Homo sapiens: one gene and its partners. The protein of the gene in region 2 interacts with the protein of the main gene of each other region in a biochemical or structural test. Each region holds a gene or a part of one and is shown on either strand. Other genes may lie near its edges. The genes, in order: MAFK, KAT6A and SYMPK.

Region 1 (7,170 bases), on a different chromosome or scaffold from region 2:
TTTTCCTCATCCACGCGCCAACCAGGCTTGATCCCAGCCCTCAAGCATCACCCGCCTGAACCCACAGCACCTGCCCAGGCTCCGGCCTCCAGCGTCTCCTGTCTGGACCACAGCTTTGCCAAATGGGATGCCCTCACCCTGATCCTGGTGCCCCCCACACAGCCCCACAGGCAGTCAAAAGTCTTGGGGGTTCCTCCCAAACCCCGACTCCCCCACCCCAATGCCGTTTCAGGTTTCTGATCACCATCTGCAGAGAGCACGTGGTTCCCTGCCCTGCTTCTTCCAGAAACACTCCCCACTGCTCTCCTCCTCGCGTAGGCAAGCACCCTCTACCAAGGCCTGGTTCTAGATCCTTCTGGGGACAGGGGGCCTCCCCAAGGCATGGTGAGCTCCTTGCAAGCAGGGAGAAGGTCTTCCCTACACCCCACACTAGCCCCCGCTGTACGAGATGAGCCGGCCCCGCATGGGAGGGCAGGGAGAGGGCAGTCTCCACCCCAATACCTTCCCCAGGACACCCGACGCACAGTGCGGAGAAGCAGGAAGGCTCTACACCAGACCCCACCGGCCTGTGGGACAGGCCAGCAGACCTCATGGCCTGGGCTTCCTCATCTACAGCAGCTGGTCGGGGGGTGGGGCATGTGGCCACTCAAGTTCGCTTGTACCTGCTCTAAAACTCTATGATTTTAAGACGACACTCCCAGTTTCCTGAAACTGTAGGAAAGCGGAAACATGACGAGTCTGTGACTTATAAAAAGCAAAAATAAATAGCGGGGAAAGGCATCTTCCATTCGCGGAGAGCAGGGAGGGTGGGGACGGAGCGGTGAGTCACTGTTTACTGTTGAAAGGCGGCCACACGGAGCCCTCTCTCAGCTGGCCAGATTTCCATTTCCCGTGTGGACTGGACCCGAAACCCAGAAAGTCCACTCCAGAAACCTTTAGACTCAGAAACAGCTGGGACAAGAACAGGCACAACTTCTTCTCCGTCTGGGTGGCAAACAGCTTTGCCAGAGACTGTAAACAAACGCAGCCATCGCTGAGCCCCGTGGGTGAAAGCACACGCCTTGTAGACAGCGAAGTGGCCCGGAAGACGGTCTCCCTTAACAGCAGCCTCCCGGGTGCACACAAAGGCTGGCGCCCCGACAACCCTGACCCTCGGTAAACGCTGGCTCCCGGGTTTACCAGCACCTGGGGAGTCGACGCTGCGGGCAACCAGCCCCTCAAAGCCCTGGCTCGGTTCAAGGATAAAAGGCAGGAGAAGCCTGGTTTTTCTGCTTTAATAAATGTCTTATTTTGGAATAATGAGAGGTCTAGTTTTAAAAGCAGACTCCCTCTCCCAAGGTCAAACTCAGACATTCCTACTGGGTTACCTAAGAAAGGGAGATGTTCTCATAAATGGCACTGGACGCCCAAATAGGGTGTAGGTGTGTCCCAGACACCTGCACAGCCCACCTATGTTCTCCAGACCCCGCCCACGGCTCTTTTAATGCTCCATGTCCCTGAAGACATTGGGTTTGGAGAAGCTGCATAGGGCACCCCACTCTGTGTTGGAGAACCCCTTACAACAACACACCGTGACGGTGAAACCTCAGTGCCAGTAAAGAGACCTGGCAGCCCACCCTGGAGAATCAGAGGGGTGGGAAGGGCGCTGCCAGAGCCGAACCACACAGATATCCCCTAGACCACGATGGGGGGCGGTGGGGGGCGTTTTGAGTCTCAGGATCTTCCCAAGGCCAGGCACCTGGCCAGAGATTGGCTGGCTGCCTGTGGGTCACCTGGTGAATGAATGGTGAGTGGATCTAATTTCTGCCTCAGCTACAAGAGCTACTTAAGAAGCAAGAAAACAGCATGCTCAGGGACGCAGGACACCAGGAGAGGGACACGGGAGGCCCCGCGAACACGGACACACACGGTGTGAGCGCGAGAATGCAGTGCAGGGCCACTGCTGTGTCCCAGGCGGACCCAGGTCAAGGGCCAAGGCCAGGCGGGGTCCTGGCTTTCTGGGTTTCTCGGTGGCGCCTGGTCCCACCCCCCAGGATCTAGAGGCTGTGCAGACGCAGACACACACAGTCACGGGCACATACACAGTTTCCTGAACTTGACAGAGGCACAGAAGAACTCACGCAGTGGGAGCGGGAAGAGGCCGGAGCCCCTGCCCCACACGTGAGCAAAGGGACGAGCCTTGGGGCCACTGTCACCTGCCCCCCTCCCGCCTCCCCACGGCCTTCCTTCCAGCAACCCTGGCAGGTGGGCGGCTGAGAGCGACACCAGTCCCAGGATCCCGCCTGTGGGGAGACCCGGTTACCCCCACCCCGTTCCCGGGCACGCGTGACCCCAGCCACTGGGCCAGAGCGCCGCCCGTCACCGGGAGGAAGCGCGGGGGGCAGTCCGGGGCCGCACGCGGAAGCCACGCTGGGGCGGAAGCCGCGGAGAATCCACGCGCCCGCGCCCTCCCCGCACCGCCCGCACGTGGCGCCCGCCCCGCCCCGCCCCCCGCAGGTGTGAAGGCGCGGGCCCGATGCGCGCCGCCGACCCGCGTGGATCCTCGTCCTCCCAGGTCTGGGGTCCGCGCCCTGGGGCCCCCGGCGCGGCAAGCATGGCCCGGGCGGCACGTGCAGGGGAGAGAGCCTCGCGTCCCGGGGAAGCCCCCGGGCCTGCGGGGCGGGGCCCACCTGGGCAGGTGCCCGGGCCGCGCCGCGGGCCGCATGAGGGTCTCGGGCCCCGCGCACCCAACCCCGCCACCCTCGGCCCGCGCCCCCAGGCGGCCGTGACTCAGCGGCCAGGTAGCCCCGGCCCCGCGCCCCGGTCCCCGTCCCCGCCGCGGCCCGGGCCCCGCTGCCCCACCGCCCCTCACCTGGCGTCGCGCGGAGGGCGCGGGCGCGCGGCGGCTCCTCGCGGGCACGCGCTGTCCTCGCGCCGGCGCTCACTGTCGCGCTCCCCTCGGCCGCCGCCGCCGCCTGGCGCTCGGGCTCCGACTTCGCGAAGAACAACAAGTGCCCCCGCGCCGCCCGCCGCCACCGCACCCGCCCGCCCGGCTCCCCAGCATCTGACACCGCTTCCGGGATCCGCGGCGCGCGCGTCACACCGCCCTGCCCCCCGGGCCACGCCCCCTCCCCGCCCCGCGGCCACGCCCCCCGGCCACGCCCTCCTCTCCCGCCCGGGGGGCCGCTGGCCCCGCGCGCACCTGCAATCCCCGCGCTTTGGGAGGCCCTGCGGGAAGATCTCTGGAGGCCGGGAGTTCAAGACCAGCCTGGGCAACATAGCGAAACCTCCCTTCCCCCATTCTCTGTCTCTATAAACATAAAAAACATTAAGGCCAGCTGGGAACGGTGGCTCATGCCTGTAATCCCAGCACTTTGGGAGGCCAAAGCAGGAGGATCGCTTGAGCCCAGGAGTTCCAGACCAGCCTGGACAACACAGTGAGACCCCCATCTCTACAAAAAAATTACAAAAATTAGTCGGGCGTGGTGGTATGTGCCTGCGGCCCCAGATATTCAGGAGGCTGAGGCAGGAGGATGGCTTGAACCTGGAAGGTGGAGGCTGCCATGATTTCATCACTGCACTCTAGCCTGGGTGACAAGGTGAGACCCTGTCTCAAAAAAACAAAACAAGCAAACCAGCAATGTAAAAATGGGGATAAGCGGCTAGTGATCACAGCCTCTGTGGGTGGGGCCAGCCCCCTTCTAAAGCCCCAGCTGGTGGTTGCCAGGGGACACAGCAGGCCCAGGATGGGGTTAGGGCACCACTGGCCCAAGGAGTCCTGTGAGGGATCCTCAGGTGGGGGCGGGCCCCTGAGGGAGCTGCCTCTGCTTCCTGTCACAGGTGGAGGACAGGCTGGAGAGGGGATCCGTCTGGAGCCCCTTGCCACGCTTCTGGGTCCCCAAGTCCCGCCCCCCTCTGAGCGCTGCAGGAAGAGGAGTTTCAGGCCTGGGCAACCGAGGGCCCCCCAGGACACCCATGGCATCTGCCCGGGGTTCTGGGAAGCCTGTTTTCTCAGCTCAGGTGGGACCCGGGAGCCTGTTTTCTCGGCTCAGGTGGGACTCAGGAGCCAGTGCAGGGAGGTCTGTGCATCTTCTGGGTGTCGTCCTTACCACCATGTGGCTGGGGATTTAGGCAGCAGCCCAGTGGCCTCTTGCTGTGGAGCGCGGGGGCAGCCTCCCGGGCCATCTCTCCCCCCCACTTGCGGGTTCTGCACTGGCCACCTGGGAGGCCCCTCCTTGCTAAGGCCCACACGGCCGTCTGGGGCAGCTAGCCACAGTGATGCCTGCAACCTGGCCGCAGAAACAGGTGCCAAGAAATAACTCAACAGCAGCAGTAGCGACAATGTCCCACGTCCCCAGGATGTTTGCAGAAAGACATCCCCCGGGGATGGGAAAGGTGCTTCCCTTGTCCTGGCCCACACTCTGCACTCGGGGTCCTGGGATGCGCTGGGAGCCTCCAGAGAAGCTGTGGCCATCTCCGCGGGACTCTTTACGTTACTCATGGTGTCGCTCCTCTAACCCAAATGCATTCTTTCCATAGCAGGCTTTTGTTACTAATCACACACTTTTATTATCTCTTTAATTTTTTAATTTGTATTTATTTATTTCTGAGATGGAGTCTCACTCTGTCGTCCAGGCTGGAGTGCAGTGGCACCATCTCGGCTCACTGCAGCCTCCGCCTCCCAGGTTCAAGTGATTCTCCTGCCTCAGCCCCCTCGAGTAGCTGGGATCACAGGTGCCCACCACCACGTCTGGTTAAATTTTGTTTTTGTTCTTGTTGCTGTTTTGAGATGGAGTCTCACTCTGTTGCCAGGCTGGAGTGCAGTAGCACGATCTCGGATCACTGCAAGCTCCGCCTCCCAGATTTAAACAATTCTTCTGCCTCAGCCTCCTGAGTAGCTGGGACTACAGATGCCTGCCACCACGCCCGGCTAATTTTTTTTTTTTTTGTATTTTTAGTAGAGACGGGTTTCACCATGTTAGCCAGGATGGTCTCAATCTCTTGACCTTGTGATCTGCCTGCCTCGGCCTCCCAAAGTGCTGGGATTACAGGCGTGCGCCACCACACCGGCTGATTTTTGTATTTTTCGTAGAGACGGTTTCACCATGTTGGCCAGGCTGGTCTCGAACCCCTGACCTCAGGTGATCCACCCGCCCTGGCCTCCCAAAGTGCTGGGATTACAGGCGTGAGCCACTGCATCCAGCCTAATTTTTAAAATTTTGAATTATTTATTTATGTTTGTTTTATGAGACAACATCTCACTGTCGCCCAAACTGGAGTTCACTGGTGCAATCACAGTTCCCTGTAGCCTCCACCTCCCAGGTTCAAGTGATCCTCCCACCTCAGCCTCCTAAGTAGCTGGGACCAAGGGCTGGTGCTACCACGCTTGGCTAATTTTCTTTGTTTTTTTTTGTAGAGACAGGATCTTGCTCTGTTGCCTAGGCTGGTCTTGAACTCCTGGGCTCAAGTGATCCTCCCGCCTCGTCCTCTCAACGTGTTGGGATTACACGCATGAGCCACTGTGCCTAGCCAAAGTTTACTTTTTATTGTGGTAAAGTAAACATCACATAGAATTTACCATTTTAACCATTTTTTTTAAGTTAAAAAAATATTTTTTCAGAGATAGGGTCTTGCTACGTTGGTCAGGTTGGTCTTGAACTCCTGGCCTCAAGCAATCCTCCTACCTCAGCCTCCCAAAGTGCTAAGATCACAGGTGTGATTAGGTGAATAGGCTGGGCATGGTGGCCATCACACTAGGCCAAGTTAACCATTCTAAGTGTACGGTTCGGTGGCGTTAAGTACATTCACGTTGTGGTACAAACATTGCCATCATCCATCTCCAGAAATTTTTCATCATTTAGTAGTTCCTTTTGTAAAAAAATGTTAAGTTCTGGCTGGGCAAGCTGGCTCACGCCTGTAATCCCAGCACTTTGGGAAGCTAAGGTGGGTGGATCACCTGAGGTCAGGAGTTCAAGACCAGCCTGACCAACATGGAGAAACCCTGTCTCTACTAAAAATACAAAATTAGCTGAGTGTGGTGGCGCATGCCTATAATCCCAGCACTTTGGGAGGCTGAGACGGGCAGATCACCTGAGGTCGGGAGTTCAAGAGCATCCTGACCAACATGGAGAAACCCCATGTCTACTAAAAATACAAAATTAGCCAGATGTGGTGACTCACGCCTGTAGTCCCAGCTACTCGGGAGCCTGAGGCAGGAGAACCACTTGAACCCAGGAGGCGGAGGCTTCAGTGAGCCGAGATTGCACCATTGTACTCCAGCCTGGGAAACAAGAGCAAAACTCTGTCTCCAAAAAAAGAAAAAGTGTGTGTGTGTGTGTGTGTGTGTGTGTGTGTGTGTGTGTGTGTGTGTGTGTTTTGAAACAGGATCTCATTCTGCCACCCAAGCTGGCGGGCAGTGGCACGATCCTGGCTCACTGCAGCCCGGACCTCCTGGGCTCAAGCAATCCTCCTGCCTCAGCCTCCCAAGTAGCTGGGACTACAGGCATGCACCATCATGCCCAGCTAACTTTTATATTTTTAAATAGAGATAGGGTCTCACTAGGCTGCTTAGGCTGTTCTTGAACTCCTGGGCTCAAGCAATCCATCTGCTTCAGCCTCCCAAAGAGCTGGGATTACAGGCATGAGCAACTGTGCCCAGCCTTGAAGAAAACATATGTAACTTTCTTTATAACTTCAGAGTGGAAAAAGGTTACTCTAATCATGATTAAAAATCTAAATACCACAAAACAGATTCAAGGCAAAAATCCTCGGAAGTAAAGTCACAACACAAAGCACACACTAGGAAAAATACTTGCAACTCAGATCTACCAGGCAAAGGGCTCCTAAACGTGTATGAAAGAACACAACCAATAAAAGAAGGCAAAGGAGGTGAATAGATCATCCACGGAAAAAGAAATCCACAGGACAAACATGTGAAAAGGTGTCTGTAATCAGAGAAATGCACATCAGAGAAAGACATTGCCGTTCTGCTTCTTGTCCAGGCGAATCCCCAAATCAGATCTCGTGCCCCAAAGGCACGGCTCAGGGAGCGAGCCCTTGGACGCATTGCTGGTGGAGGGGCCAGGCAGCGGAGCCCCAGGGAAGGAGTCTGGCCACACTGTCCATGAGACCATGGCCCCGATTTGTGCTAGAACCCAGCAATCCCACTACTTCTTTGTCCTTCTCCTCCTC
Region 2 (7,106 bases):
TACAGAATCCTTCACCATGGTAAAACTCGCAAACCCGCTTTATACTGAGTGGATTTTGGAGGCCATCAAAAAAGTGAAAAAGCAGAAACAGCGTCCTTCAGAAGAAAGGATATGCAATGCTGTGTCTTCATCCCATGGCTTGGATCGTAAAACTGTTTTAGAACAATTGGAGTTGAGTGTTAAAGATGGAACAATTTTAAAAGTCTCAAATAAAGGACTCAATTCCTATAAAGATCCTGATAATCCTGGGCGAATAGCACTTCCTAAGCCTCGGAACCATGGAAAATTGGATAATAAACAAAATGTGGATTGGAATAAACTGATAAAGCGGGCAGTTGAGGGCTTGGCAGAGTCTGGTGGCTCAACTTTGAAAAGCATTGAACGTTTTTTGAAAGGTCAGAAGGATGTGTCTGCATTATTCGGAGGCAGTGCTGCCTCTGGCTTTCACCAGCAGTTACGATTGGCTATCAAACGTGCCATTGGCCACGGCAGACTCCTTAAAGATGGACCTCTTTATCGGCTCAACACTAAAGCAACCAACGTGGATGGGAAAGAGAGTTGTGAGTCTCTTTCCTGTTTACCTCCAGTGTCCCTTCTTCCACATGAAAAGGATAAGGTAAGAATGGCATATGCTTCGGGGTTTATAGAGCTGATGATATAGGATGCTACAAATTCACATTTCTGGGAAGTTATATTCAAGTTTTTTGTTTGGGGACTTCTGTGGAGTGATCACCTCTGGTTTTTTATTGGTGAGTTGTAGCTATGAGAGCTTCATAGATTTGTTCTGGTACTTTGAAATATTTGAAGCCTAAGATTAAAAATGTAGAATGTTAATCTGACTAAAAGAACTTATTTACATTACAATGAAAAAGTGACATATGAGTTTAAAACTTTTTTTTAAATTTTTTTTTATTATTTTGCTTGAGGAGTACTCCAGCGTGAGACTTTAAAACTTTAACTAAAGGTTCTTAGAACACCTTACTACTGGAAGTTGATGAGCAGCCAAATCATGGAGACTTGAATTTGAAACAAGCAGATGACTCTGAGAACATTTTTCTGTTTTCCATTTTGTTGCAGATTACTCGTTAGACAGAAATGAGACAGATTCTCATGACCCATAGGCGCAACTAAGCAAACTTAGCAATTCTTGTTTCTGCTGTTTGTATTATAGCTTTCTGTCATGTATTATGGCTTTGCATATGATGAAGTCCTAAATGCTATTTATGACAGCTGTAGTTGCATGGGACAGGAATACAGTATCCTAAACTAGAAAAGTTCTGGAGGGTCTGGAACAGTAGTTCATGCCTGTAATCCCAGCGCTTTGGGAGGCTGGGACAGGAGGATGTCTTGAGCCTAGGAGTTTGAGCCCAGCCTGAGCAATATAGCGAGACCCCACGTCCACCAAAAATAGAAAAATTAGCCAGGTATGGGCGCGCCTGTAGTCCTAGCTACTTGGGAGGCTGTGTCGGGGAGGATTGCTTGAGTACAGGTGTCTGAGGCTCCAGTGAGCTATGCTGTCACCACTGCACTCCAGCCTGGACAACTGAGACCCTGTTCTAAAAACAAAAAGAAAGGTAAAGTTCTGGAGAGTTGGGAGTTTTGATGCCCAGATGTGTACTTTACTCTGTTGTGTTTTAGGATGTTATTGTATATAGTTGAAATTATGACTTCTTAAACAGTAAATTTTGGTGCTTAAATAGATATTTGGAGATTAGGAGAATTTTGTTAGTACCTGTTTTTTACATTGACCTAGTATCTTAGCTGTAAATTTACTTAAGGTGCTCTGAATTATAGTTCCTTGGAGAGCAGTGATGCTTTAAGTTGCTGCACACCTTGGTAGACATAAGTAAAATGATCTTCATTTTGCTTAAGATGATGGAGGATACTCCTAGGGTGGAAAGATGGTAAAGTTAACATTGAATGTATTTTGAAAATTGGAGATTTGATCTCAATTTGTTGTATTATTAGCAGCCCACTGAATACCTGTAGATTTTTCTTTAACAATTGAAAATTAACGGTATTTTTCTTTGATGAAATTTTTAGAGATCTATTTCAGGGTTCAATTTTCCCTGTGAACATTGAAATAAAACATAATCTTACTGTTATTACCCTTGAAATGATTCTCATACAGTCATGAATTGATAGAGAATCTCATTCATAAAATGGCTCTATGTAATTTGAGCATTTATTAAAAGTATATATTAAAAATTCAGGGTAGACAAGTAATTAAAATGCTTTATTCTATATTTAAGTGCTGTAAGAACTCTTACCTGTAGAAACTTTATCACATGTGGCTGAATTTAAATACAGTTATCGGATTTCTACAATTATTAAATGATCTAACAGGTTAACTGCCTGGAAACAGGAAATAATTTATAGTTAGATCAGTTCAGTGCCATACCTGTGAATTGGATGTTATAAGTTCCTGTTAGGCCACCTGTTTGCTTTTATTTATTTATTTTTGAGACAGAATCTCGTTCTGTCACCCAGGCTGGAGTGCAGTGGTGCAGTCTCACTGCAACCTCCGCCTCCCAGGTTCAAGCGATTCTCTTGCCTCAGCCTCCCAAGTAGCTGGGATTACAGACATGCACCACCACGCCCGGCTAATTTTTGTATTTTTAGTAGAGACGGGGTTTCACCTTGTTGGCCAGGCTGGTCTCGAACTCCTGACCTCGAGTGATCCACCCGCCTCTGCCTCCCAAAGTGTTGGGATTACAGGCTTGAGCCACCGTGCCTGGCCTGTTGTTTGCTTTTATTGTAATTACACTTGCTTGAATTATCAATAGATAATTTTAAAAAATATTAGCTATATAAAAATGTCATTTGAGCATATTTTTAAAAGGTAGTAAATATAGTACAGTGCAAGACAAATCCAAGTCCTAGAACCCTGAGATTTTACTTTTGGAAGGGACCCTGAGAACCGTCTAATCCAAGTCCTTATTTTGCAGCTGAGCTAAGGACCTTTGTTGAGACCATTTCATAGCACCTTTGCATTAAGAAAAGTTTAATTCAGTAGAGATGTGCTGTTTTGCTTTGACTGGAGTGCAGTGGTGTGATCTCAGCTCACTGCAACCTTCGCCTCCCGGGTTCAAGCGATTCTTCTGCCTCAACCTCCTGAGTAGCTGGGATTATAGGTTTGCGCCACCACGTGTGGCTACTTTTTTTTTTTTTTTTTTGTATTTTTAGTAGAGACAGGGTTTCACCATGTTGGCTAGGCTGGTCTCAACTCCTGACCTCAAGCGACCTGCCCACCTCGGTCTCTCAAAGTGCCAAGATTATAGGAATGATCCACCGCACCTGGCCACATTTGATTTTGGAGAAATAAAGCAAGAAAAACAAAAGTGATTTAATAATTGAAAAAATGAAAAAGAAATGCCCATTTGCTTACATAGCTTTCATATATAGTGTTTTTTTGTTTTTTTTTTTTTTTTGAGATGGAATTTCGCTCTTGTTGCCCAGGCTGGAGTGCAGTGGCACGATCTTGGCTTACTGCAGCCTCCGCTGCCCAGGTTCAAGCAATTCTTCCTTCTCAGCCTCCCATGTAGCTGGGATTACAGGCATGCTGACCACCATGCCTGGCTAATTTTGTATTTTTAGTAGAGACGGGGTTTCTCCCTGTTGGTCAGGCTCATCTCGAACTCCCAACCTCAGGTGATCCGCCCACCTTGGCCTCCCAAAGTGCTGGCATTACAGGCATGAGCCACCCTGCCTATAGTGTTAACTGAAGTAACTAAATTTAGACATGTTGGAAAATAGAGTTTGTTTCTTCAGGTAGACTTGTATATGTACTAATCTCATTGGAAAACTAATTTCATGATAGTATCTATTCAATTAGAGTTGGTGAGCTCTGTTCTATATTTTTAAATGGAGTCTTATTTTCAGTAGTGAATTTCCTGTGTGACTTCCCCCAAAGATATGAAAAGTTTACATTAAAAATCGTAATACAGTGAACTCTAGGATGAGAGATTATTCCTTTGAACAGATTATGTCTGCTCCTTTTATTGTATTTTAACTATTTTCTTTCCTCTCCTTCGAACTACGCAGTCAGTTGCTATGCAGAATTGATAGTTTGCTGTTACGAACCTAGATGTTCTCAAAAAAAGAAAAGAATTATCCAGAGTTTATTTGACAGTGATGGAGAAAGGAAGGTGTATAGGTCAGGAGTAGTTTCACTTTTAGGAATTAATTGGTTCAGCATATAGTCATTGAGCACCTACTGTGGGCCAGGCACTCTGCTTGGAACAGAAACAGTTCTGTCTTCTCTGGGATGCTAATGCAGGTATTTCTATTGACCTGGCCAACTGTAAGGTGAAGATGAAATTCAAAGACTGCGTGGAGTAACCCGAGCAAGTTCCTCTTTACTTTTTCTGGTATCAATTCTAACTTTTTGTTTTTTTTTGGTGATATTAACCTTTGGAAGGAACTGTATGTTAGATTTTCGGCAGCTGAGTGGTTTTGATCCTTTTGGGAGATCAACTGTGTTGGAATACGTTTAAGAGGAGTTTTTGTGAAGACATTGGAACTTTAGTGTGTTCTTTTCACATTGATAAGTACTGAGGAGAATCCATGGGATACTGTGATTAAAAGTTTTTAGGCCAGGCCTGGTGGCTCAGGCCTGTAATCCCAGCACTTTGGGATGCCGAGGGGGGGGTGGATCACCTGAGGTCAGGAGTTCAGGACCAGCCTGGCCAATATGGTGAAACCCCATCTCTACAGAATACAAAAATCAGCCCGGCATGATGGTGGGTGCCTGTAATCCCAGCTACTCGGTAGGCTGAGGCAGGATAATCGCTTGAACCCAGGAGGCGGAGGTTGTAGCGAGCCTAGATTGTGCCACTGCACTCCAGCCTGGGCAACAGAGCAAGACTCCATCTCAAAAAAAAAAAAAAAAAAAAGTTTTTACCCATGTTATAAGGGAAATTTTTGAGCTAACTTTAGAGTGTGGTAGTTAATGGTGAGTTTATTTATTAAAGTGTTTATTTACTATGTGCCAGGCGTTATTTTAATGCTGTATATATATTAACTCATTTAATCCTCTAACATAACTAGCTACTGTTAGGTTAGTTAGTTATTAATAACATAACAGTACCAGCAGTGAAATAGCTACTGTTATTTTACAGGTGAAGAAACTGAGGCATAAAAGAGATTTCAGTAACTTGCTGAAGTCACACAAATATTAGGTGGCAGAGCTGGGATTTGAATTTGGGCAGTCTGGCTCCAGAGTCTTTGTAATAGCCATACTGACCACCTCTTAGGAGCAGTAATGTATGATGGCTATCACTGCACTCAAGTACAGAATCGTGAATGTCCTTGGTGTTAACTTCATAGCACATTTCCTAATTGTTAAAGGACAAATTCCCGCCCGTCTTCATTGTGTCCATTTTTCTTTTTTTGCAGAACAGATTTGAAAATTCACTTTGGACCAGTGATAAGAATGTGTTAGGAACCAAAGATTAGGAGTAATCTAGTTTTGTATATCTGAGGTCCATTAAAAAAAAGTTTCACCTACATGCCATTTTTTTCCCTTAAAGATAATTTCTGTGCTAACTAATTTTCATTTCAGTTGTCACTAACATTTTCTGATAGGCAAGGTAGGGATCAGTTGTATTGCTATACCAGAGTGCTTTAATTTGGGACAGAAATACTGTTTTCCTTGAATCATGGGATTATAGGTGAGGAGAAGAGTGTGTAACTGGCTTAAATAGCATCTTCCTCTTTGTAAATTTCTTTTTGAAATATAGATATTACTGTAAGGTAATTTGTTCCATTTACTTCAGTTATTCATTATTTATTTAGCAAACATTTGAATGCCTGCCATGAACAGTGGATTTAAGATTTAGGTCCTGTGAGGGGATTAAAGCAGACAGAATAGAGATACAAAATAAATTTTTTGAAAGCCTTTTTTAGTTTATGAACTGTAATTTTTTTACATTATTATTTTTTCATAACAATTAAGTATCATGACTCAGAAATAATAATATGTTTAGTGGGCAAGGCAATTATTTGAGACTGTGATGGTCCATTTAAAAAATTATCTTTATATAGTGAGTCTTGGAAAGATTCAATTTCCTTTCAAGAATAGTTTTCACCTTGATTTCAAACTTCTGAGTTCATTTTTACACACTGACATAATTTACTTGAATATATATAGTTTGTGTTCTGTATTACTAGCCCAGAAAAATATTCTCTTTCATGGTAATCAGCCAGATCATTAAAAGTATTGTTATTTGGTGGCATAGTATTTTGGAACAGAATTATAATTTGCTAAAGCGTTCAGTTGGACAGGGAAGAGTAGGTATTGTCAACTAATGTTATTGTTCAGGTTACTCCCAGCTGGGTAACCTGGAGCAGAAAGATCCAATGATAAATCTCTTGCCTTCTACTCTAAGTTACATCTCAATTTGGTCAACTCTTAGTAGAGTCCAAATTATTTTGTTTTATTGGAATTTATATTTTAAATTATAGAGGAAGTAGAGCTTTGACAGGAATTTAGAATTTAAATTTTCGATGTAGAGATACTGATTAAAATGGGGATTTTTTTTTTTTTTTTGAGAGATGGAGTCTTGCTTTGTTGCCCAGGCTGGAGTGCAGTGGTGCAACCTCCACCTCCTGGGTTCAAGCGATTCTCCTGCCTCAGCCTCCCGAGTAAGCTGGGATTATAGGCGCATGCCACCATGCCCGGCTAATTTTTATATTTTTAGTAGAGATGGGGTTTCACCAGGTTGGCCAGGCTGGTCTCGAACTCCTGACCTCATGATCCGCCTGCCTCGGCCTCCCAGAGTGCTGGGATTATAGGCGTGAGCCACCGTGCCCGGCCAGGGATATGTTTTTAAGTTACTGAAAGTTAAGAGTGATGAAGTTTTGATTTAGCTATTTGGAAATGACCTTTATAGTAGAATAGTTGCACATTTTATATGTTAGAATGGTGGTATTTTATAAGAAAATTGTTAACCAATATAAGCTTGGAAATTTCAATTTCAATTACTCTGTTGCGTTGATACTGTATAAAAAGGCAATAAATAGTTGTCCATGCTATTAAATTCAGGGCTATGTGGACTGCTTGACAGAATGATTGTTCACTTTGGAAAAACAAAAAAAACAAAAAA
Region 3 (7,106 bases), on a different chromosome or scaffold from region 2:
GGCCCGGGGTGACCACCCTTCGGGCTTGGCACACTCTGAGGTGGAGCAGGTTGGGGAAGAGCTGGAGCTGGGGACACAGCCTTGCCCGTGGGTGGGCAGGGCCTGGTGGGCTCAGGGGCCTCACCGGCTGCTCAATGACCCTCAGCACCGTCCGCTTGATGTCGGCGATGGCTTCAGTGTACACGGCCGCCAGTTCGTGGATCAGCTTGTGGTTCTGAGGCAGGAGGGCCAGGTAGAGGTACAGACACTGCTTCACTGTCTCCTCCGTCCAGGGTGCTGCCACCTCTGACAGGGCAGGAGCGGGCATCAGATTGGCCCACACTCTTCTCCAACCCCCTCGGACCCTCAGGAATGTCCCTTCTTGGGCAGTGGAGCCGGGGAGGGCAGAGAAGGGAGCCGGGGCTGGGGAGCTAATTGTTCTAGGGCAGGGAAATGGCGGGGACCAGGACTTCCCACCTCCAGCCTCCCGTGACTGCCAACACACAAGGCAACTAGAAGGATCTTTCTAAAGTGCGATCCTGACCCTGTCCCTCTCTGGCTCCAATCCCAGCCATGCCTGCCCTGTGGCCTCAGAATAAACCCCCAGCTCCCTGCCTCACACTGTCTGCCAGGTGTTGTATGGGGTGGCCCCGGCCCGCTGCTGCTCTGCTGCCCTCCATGTTGGTCACATACCCATTCTAACAGTCCCGAGGGCCCTGGTCTCTTTGCCTTTGCATCCACCCTCCTCTTTGCCTGGTCCACGGCACCTGCTCAGCTTCTGGGCCTCCCGAAGGCTGTGCATCTCCTGGGAATGCTTCCTGGCACCTGGGCCAGGCCTCCCGTGCTGCCCTATCATGGCCCAAGCCTTCCCATTTAATGGTCCATTTACTCGGGGTCTGAGTCTACCTGTCTGTAATCCAGGGCTCTGCTGAGGGAACCTGCCTGAGATGGCCCTGCCTGGTCCTTCCTCAGGCCCCACCGATGGCTGGCTCTCCTCGTCCTCCAGATCTCTCTCCCTGACCCCCCAGGCTGGGCCAGATGCCCCCTACCCTGACTCCCACAGCCCCCAGGTGGCTGTCCCAGTCCTGCCCATTCCCGTCACTCGTGTCCGAGTGGCTTCCCCACTCATCCCCTCTGCTCGCAGGGCCCAGAGCGCGGACACAGCAGCGCTCAGTATGCATCTGATGACCTGTGCCCAACCTGTGTCCTTGTCAGCTCCAAACAGCACAGACGGTGGGTTGGGGTGCACCAGGAGCTGCAGGTAGTTGAGGGCAAATTTCTCCACATACTCCCGCAGCTGCTCCTTCTCATACATGCGTTTGATGAACAGCAGGGCCTGGGAGCGCACCTGAGGAGGAAGATGGAGAAGGGCAGGGTCAGGGAAGAGGTAAGAGGAAGAACAGCTATTCCTGCGAGCATGGCAACACTCACGTGAAAACAAGCCCGAGGCTGAGAAGGGGCAGCCCAGCTGTTACCAGGGCCCAGGGCTGGTCCCCAGTGCAGGAGGCAGATATCCTGGCCAGGGCCGGACCCGCAGCACCACCTCACTGCCTGCCTCTCCAGCCCATCTGCCCATCACTGCTTCTTGCCTTGCTCACTAAGCTCCAAGCAGAGGGAGAGCTCCTCAGTTCCTTAAAAGTGCCACTCCCTGCCAAGTCTCCCTAGAACGTCTACTGCCAGCTAAACCCTGTTTCACTCAGATATCATCTGCCAGGAGCCGTGAGGGAAGGGTCTGGTCCTGGGCACTCTGACCCCAGCAGCAGCACATGGCCATGGCCAGGGCCAGGGCCAGGGGTGTGAGATGAAGGTCTGCTGAATGAATGAAAACGCTACCCAGCAAGGGCTGGGGCAAAAGGCTGCAGGCAACGATGGGTCAAGGGCGCTCTCAACCACAGCACGTGCACATCTGTCCCCTCTGTCTAGAGCACACCCAGCTACTGATTTTCCAGGTCTCAGCGTACAAGTCCCCTCCTTGAAAGAAGCCTTCCTTGAAACACCTCCCCTGCCCACCCCACAACCAGATGGTCGGCCCCTCCCTCCCCAGGGCAGCCACACACTGCTCTGCTCAGCTGCTGAGCACGCTGTGTCCTCACTGCTGGCTGAGGCCACACCGGCTCCCCTGCTGGGCTGGGCAATGCCCTCAGGCCCCGGCACAGGACTGGGCTGCACGAGGAGCCTGTGCTGGCCACCACGGGTGGACTAAGAGCGAGAGTGGGACTGCCCTTCCCAGGAGGGCAAGCGCACGTGTGTGTGTGTACACACTACAGGCAGACTCAGGCACGGTAACCCTGGTTTCTAGGCAGCTTGATGCCACTGAAAATGAAAATAAAACAGACAGAAATAGCCAAAAAACCACTGAAAGAAGGGAATGGGCCCAGAGAAACTTGCAAGGGAGTGTGGAAGACGTGGGCTGGTTACTCAGGATAGAGGCGGCCTCTGCAAGCTGCAGGCTGAGGGCAGCCAGGAAGTGGAGGAGGGGATCACCTTGTCCTTCTCATGGGAGCTGAGGTCGAGGAGGACATGCAGGTACTGGAACTGGCGGGACGGGCGCTTGAAGATCAGGTCTCGAAGTGTGGACATGCCCAGATAGGTGCGACTCTGCAGCAAAAGGAAAGGGACCCGAGCTCAGCCCACCTGAGTGTGCCTCTGGGCTCTGTCTTTCCTGCCTGCCTCTGATCAGGTACCTGGACAAAAGGGCCCGGTCCCTCACAAAACCCCCGGCCACAAGGTTTAGACTGTGTGCCCTTCAGACCCCTCAGGGCAGGGCCCTGTCCCCTGCCCCGGGCTGCACTGACCAGGGCCTGTCCTCACCTCATCCTCGCAGTACTTGCGGACCACCTCCAGGGCACTCTCTGTGATGAGTGGCGCCTCCAGCACAACCTTGGTGAAGATCCTGCCAGAGATGGAGGGAGGGCCATGGCTGCAGAGGAAGAGGCCGCCTGGCTCCCGGGCCCTGCTGAATTGTAGGAGCTCAGGGCCAGCAGGCCCTCCCTCAGGGGCTGCTTGTTCAAGCCCCTGCTTATAAAGCTTTGGAGGTGAACAGAACAGGGTTCAAAAGCTGGCGGCTGGATGATCTGGGCAGAGACTGCACCTCTCTGAAACTCATTTCTTCCGTTTGTCAAACAGGGATTCCTAACTTTATTCACTGAACATAAGAACGGGAGGGAATGATGGCGGGTGGAGAAGGGTGTGGGTATTTTAGATATGGTGGCCTCAAAAGGCCGCTTTGAAGTTACAGTTGAGTACACTGGTGGATGAGAAGGAGCCACCCACACATAGAGTTGAGGGAAGAGCATTCCAGGTGGACAGAACAGGAAGCACCAGCGCCCTGAATTTGACATGTTCGAGGAACAGACAGAAGGCCAATGTGGCTAATGTTCGGGGGGTAAAGCCAAAGAGATTGGGTCACATAAGGCCTCACTGGTCACAGTAAGGAGGCTGTGTTTTATCCCAAGACCAATGGAGAACCATGGAAGGTTCCTTGTGGGGAAGTAATAAAAGGATTTATATAATAAAATGTTCCTGGAGCTGCTGTGTGGAGGATAGACGAGTAAGCTGGAGGCCACGGATAGGGAGGAAGCTACAGAACCAACTCAGGTAGTGAATGGGGTGTAGAGAAGTCTATCTCCAGGCCCATGGGTGAGCACTGTTATTTACAGATGGGAAAATGGCAGAGAGAGGGAGTGACAAAGCCACGCAGAGCAAGCTCAGAGCAAGTGGCAGAGCTGAGGAACAGCTCAGGGAGTGCGACCTGGAGCCCACATGCAAAACTACAACCTTGAACGTGCCTCCAGAGGGGGAGGAGGAGAGGAGACTTGGGATGGGTGCGAGGAGGACTGACTCGGGGGGTGACGAAGAGGGAGGTGGTCGCAATCAGAAAGGGAGGGCAGCACCAGGAGAGGAAGCCTCTCGGGGACAGGAGGGTGCAGGGTCAGCCCCCTCACCCATCCTTCTGGTCTGGTTTCTCCTGCAGGCCAGACAACAGGCGGATGAGGCAGTCCTCATACTTGTCCAGGGAGCCCGAGGCACCTGCGGCCAGGTAGGCGTTGTACTCCTGGTAGAGCCAGGCGAAGGCCAGGTCCAGGCGGGCCCGCACATCCTCCAGGATGAAGGACAGGACCTCCGCCTTCAGGCCCGAGTTGAACTGTGTCACCAGGCTGGCCAGGATCTTTATGCGGACCTGGTGGGAGGGTGAGCCAGCATGTCAGTGTAGGGTGGGCAATCCAGGGACTCCGCAATCGTGCCCTGCGACTTCTCCCACCCAGACGCAGGAACTCTCAGAGCAGACAAGGAGTGAAGCGAGGAAGGCCAGCCGAGGACCCTTATGCCTAGGAAGGTCCCGTTTGTGTGTTGGGGGGTGGGGGTACCAGGGTGGGGATCGATCATCACAGAATAAAAATGAGTTTCTAGGAGCAGCACCCATGTACTTAAGTGCACAGAAAAAGATCCTCAAAGATTCCCCTCATTTGTGCCTTTGTCACCTTTGAAGAGAGGGATGGGGTGCAGGTGATGGCCACGGAAGAGTACTGGATCTGGATTCCCCGGAAATATTTTTCAGCTCAGGGAGTATGTTCCTATACTACTGGCTAATCAACAATTAACTTCACAGAATGGGGAAAAAGTCACTTTTCCCCATTCTTTGAAGGTAACAGTGCCAGCAAGTGGCAGAATCAGGACAGAGAACCAGGTATATTTCTAAAGCTAAATAGTAACAGTAAGAACGTTAACAACCGTGAAGAACCAAGACCACAAGAGCAGCCCTCACTTGCAGAGGCCTCCCAGCACCTGCCCTGTGCACCTGAGTGCCTGTGCTCATTGCACATTTCCTCCTCGTCACCCAGGAGGAGCTGCTGCTACTGTCTCTGTTTTATGGAGGATGGGAGTGATCTGGAGAAGCGGCTGTGGGCAGCAGAGCTGGGGTCCGCAGCCAGGGAGGTTTGACGCCAGGGCCAGACTCTTCGCTGGATGTGAGGTAGACGTTTGGGTAGAGGGACTGGAAGGATGGGGTGGGGGGTGGCAGGCGCACACCTGGGCTGCCCCGCTGCAGGCCACAGCCTTCTCAGCCCGCAGGATCCGCTTCACAGCGCCCAGCTTCATGGCTTCCACCTGGGCATCGGTAAGGGGCTTCAGCACGTCGCTGAGACGGAAAATTTTCTTGCGCCCACCAGCGCCTGCCAGCCTGTGTGGAAGAGCAGTGACAGAGATGCAGTGACCCAGACTGCAGCAAAGGCCTGTCTGGTGACTCTCCCAACTTCAAGGACTAGGTAGGCAACAGAGATGGCCCCCATCCCCCTGCTGCCTCTCCAGTTCCTCTGTGTCTCTGAGGCACGGTGTGGCGGTGGGTAAGAGGAAGGAAGAGGATGTTATTTTGGTTTTGCAGAGGGCGTCTTACGGAAGGCTTCTGTGAGTGGGGATCTGAACGGAGGCAGGGACAAGATACACAAATGTCTGGGGGACCAGCTCTCCAGGCAAAGGCCCTTAGGTGGGAACAGACTTGTGGGCACGAGTGGAGGAGGGGTGAGGGTAGCAGAAGAGAGCTCGGAGGGTAGCAGATCCCGCTCAGCTGTGTTAGTAAGACTTGGGGCTGGGCACGGTGGCTCACGCCTGTAATCCCAACACTTTGGGAGGCTGAGGCAGGCGGATCACGAGGTCAGGAGATCGAGACCATCCTGGTTAACACGGTGAAACCCCGTCTCTACTAAAAATACAAAAAATTAGCCAGGCGTGGTGGCGGGCGCCTGTAGTCCCAGCTAATCGGGAGGCTGAGGCAGGAGAATGGCATGAACTCGGGAGGCGGAGCTTGCAGTGAGCTGAGATCGCGCCACTGCACTCCAGCCTGGGAGACAGAGTGAGACTCCGACTCAAAAAAAAATAATAAATAAATAAATAATAAAAAGACTTGGGTGGCCGGGACTGGCTGGATTTTGTGGTGTGTAAGGGAGGTAATAATGGGGACAATGATGATGACAGCCAGTAGCATTTACTACACAACAGGAACCACGCGAAATGCTTGACAATCACAATCACTTTTCACTCGAGTATCTAGTTACCTAACCATCACCATTACCACGAACTAATTTAATTCTTCTTTGATCCTTATGAGAAAGATACTATCATTATCCTAATTTTAGACATAAAAAAGGATTTTTTTTTTTTTTTTTTACAGGAAAGAGAACAGCAAAGGCTTAGTGGTTATGGCACTGACTCGGGAGTCAGAGAGAACCTATTCCAGACTTCCTTCTGTCTGCATCTCAGTTACACACACACACGCACACGCACACGCACACGCACACGAGCTGAGAACCAGACCTTCAGGGTAGGGCTCCTGTCCTGCCCTAGCACCCAGAAGAGGACTCACCGGGGCTGAGTGACAGGGATAATGGGCTCTGGCCTCCTCTTGGCCTGCGGTGCCTCTTCCTCCAGGGGGGACATGGAGCTCAGGGAACCCACCACCGAGATGGCTTGGCCCTGGGCTGACAGGCGCCGCTTGATCAGGACGCTCTCTGTCTTCACCACCTTCTCCTCCTTGGGCTCCTCCTTGCACTGTTTGGTCTGCTCTACACCTGAGGGGGAGGCAGCAAACAGACACCCAGTGCGTCAGACCCACCTGCTCCAACCCGAGGACCTCCTGTGTGCCTGGCTCTGTTCTGAGCCCTGTACACACAAAACCTCGTTTAAATCCACACAACACTGTCCTGGAGTGGGTACTCTTTTTATCCCCACTTTTCAATACAACTGAGGCTCAAACTAGAAATGCCATTCATTGCTGGGGGGAGCAGCAAATGCTACAGCCACTTTGGAAACATGATGAGCAGTTTTTGTTTTTTAGACTGGGTGTCACTCTGTCACCCAGGCTGGAGTACGGTGGTGCAATCAGGGCTCACTGCAGTCTTGACCTCCTGGGCTCAAGCAATCCTCCTGCCTCAGCCTCTCAGCCTCCCAACTAGCTGGGACTACAGGCGCATGCCAACATACCTAGCTAATTTTTGTATTTTTTTGTAGAGATGAGGTCTCCATATGTTGCCCAGCTTAGTCTTGAACTCCTGGGCTCAAGCGATCCTCCCGCCTTGGACTTCCAAAGTGCTGGGATTACAGGTATGAGCCACTGTGCCCAGCCCTCAGCTGTT

Evidence for each region.
Region 1: the proteins of KAT6A (region 2) and MAFK form a complex in vitro, tested with the Homo sapiens proteins (one study listed by BioGRID).
Region 3: the proteins of KAT6A (region 2) and SYMPK form a complex in vitro, tested with the Homo sapiens proteins (one study listed by BioGRID).

What each region holds. Positions count from the first base shown.
Region 1 is NC_000007.14:1,526,580-1,533,749, reverse strand, and holds the start of MAFK (transcription factor MafK), read right to left. Parts: upstream 3,049-7,170; 5' UTR 2,852-3,048; intron 1,298-2,851; exon of another isoform or gene 1-1,297. UniProt on the Homo sapiens protein: Since they lack a putative transactivation domain, the small Mafs behave as transcriptional repressors when they dimerize among themselves.
Region 2 is NC_000008.11:42,041,888-42,048,993, reverse strand, and holds part of KAT6A (histone acetyltransferase KAT6A), read left to right. Parts: 5' UTR 1-16; coding exon 17-616; intron 617-5,418; exon of another isoform or gene 5,419-5,490; intron 5,491-7,106. UniProt on the Homo sapiens protein: Histone acetyltransferase that acetylates lysine residues in histone H3 and histone H4 (in vitro). Component of the MOZ/MORF complex which has a histone H3 acetyltransferase activity. May act as a transcriptional coactivator for RUNX1 and RUNX2.
Region 3 is NC_000019.10:45,825,047-45,832,152, forward strand, and holds part of SYMPK (symplekin), read right to left. Parts: intron 6,543-7,106; coding exon 6,338-6,542; intron 5,159-6,337; coding exon 5,008-5,158; intron 4,160-5,007; coding exon 3,924-4,159; intron 2,873-3,923; coding exon 2,791-2,872; intron 2,578-2,790; coding exon 2,464-2,577; intron 1,328-2,463; coding exon 1,180-1,327; intron 286-1,179; coding exon 125-285; intron 1-124. UniProt on the Homo sapiens protein: Scaffold protein that functions as a component of a multimolecular complex involved in histone mRNA 3'-end processing. Specific component of the tight junction (TJ) plaque, but might not be an exclusively junctional component. May have a house-keeping rule.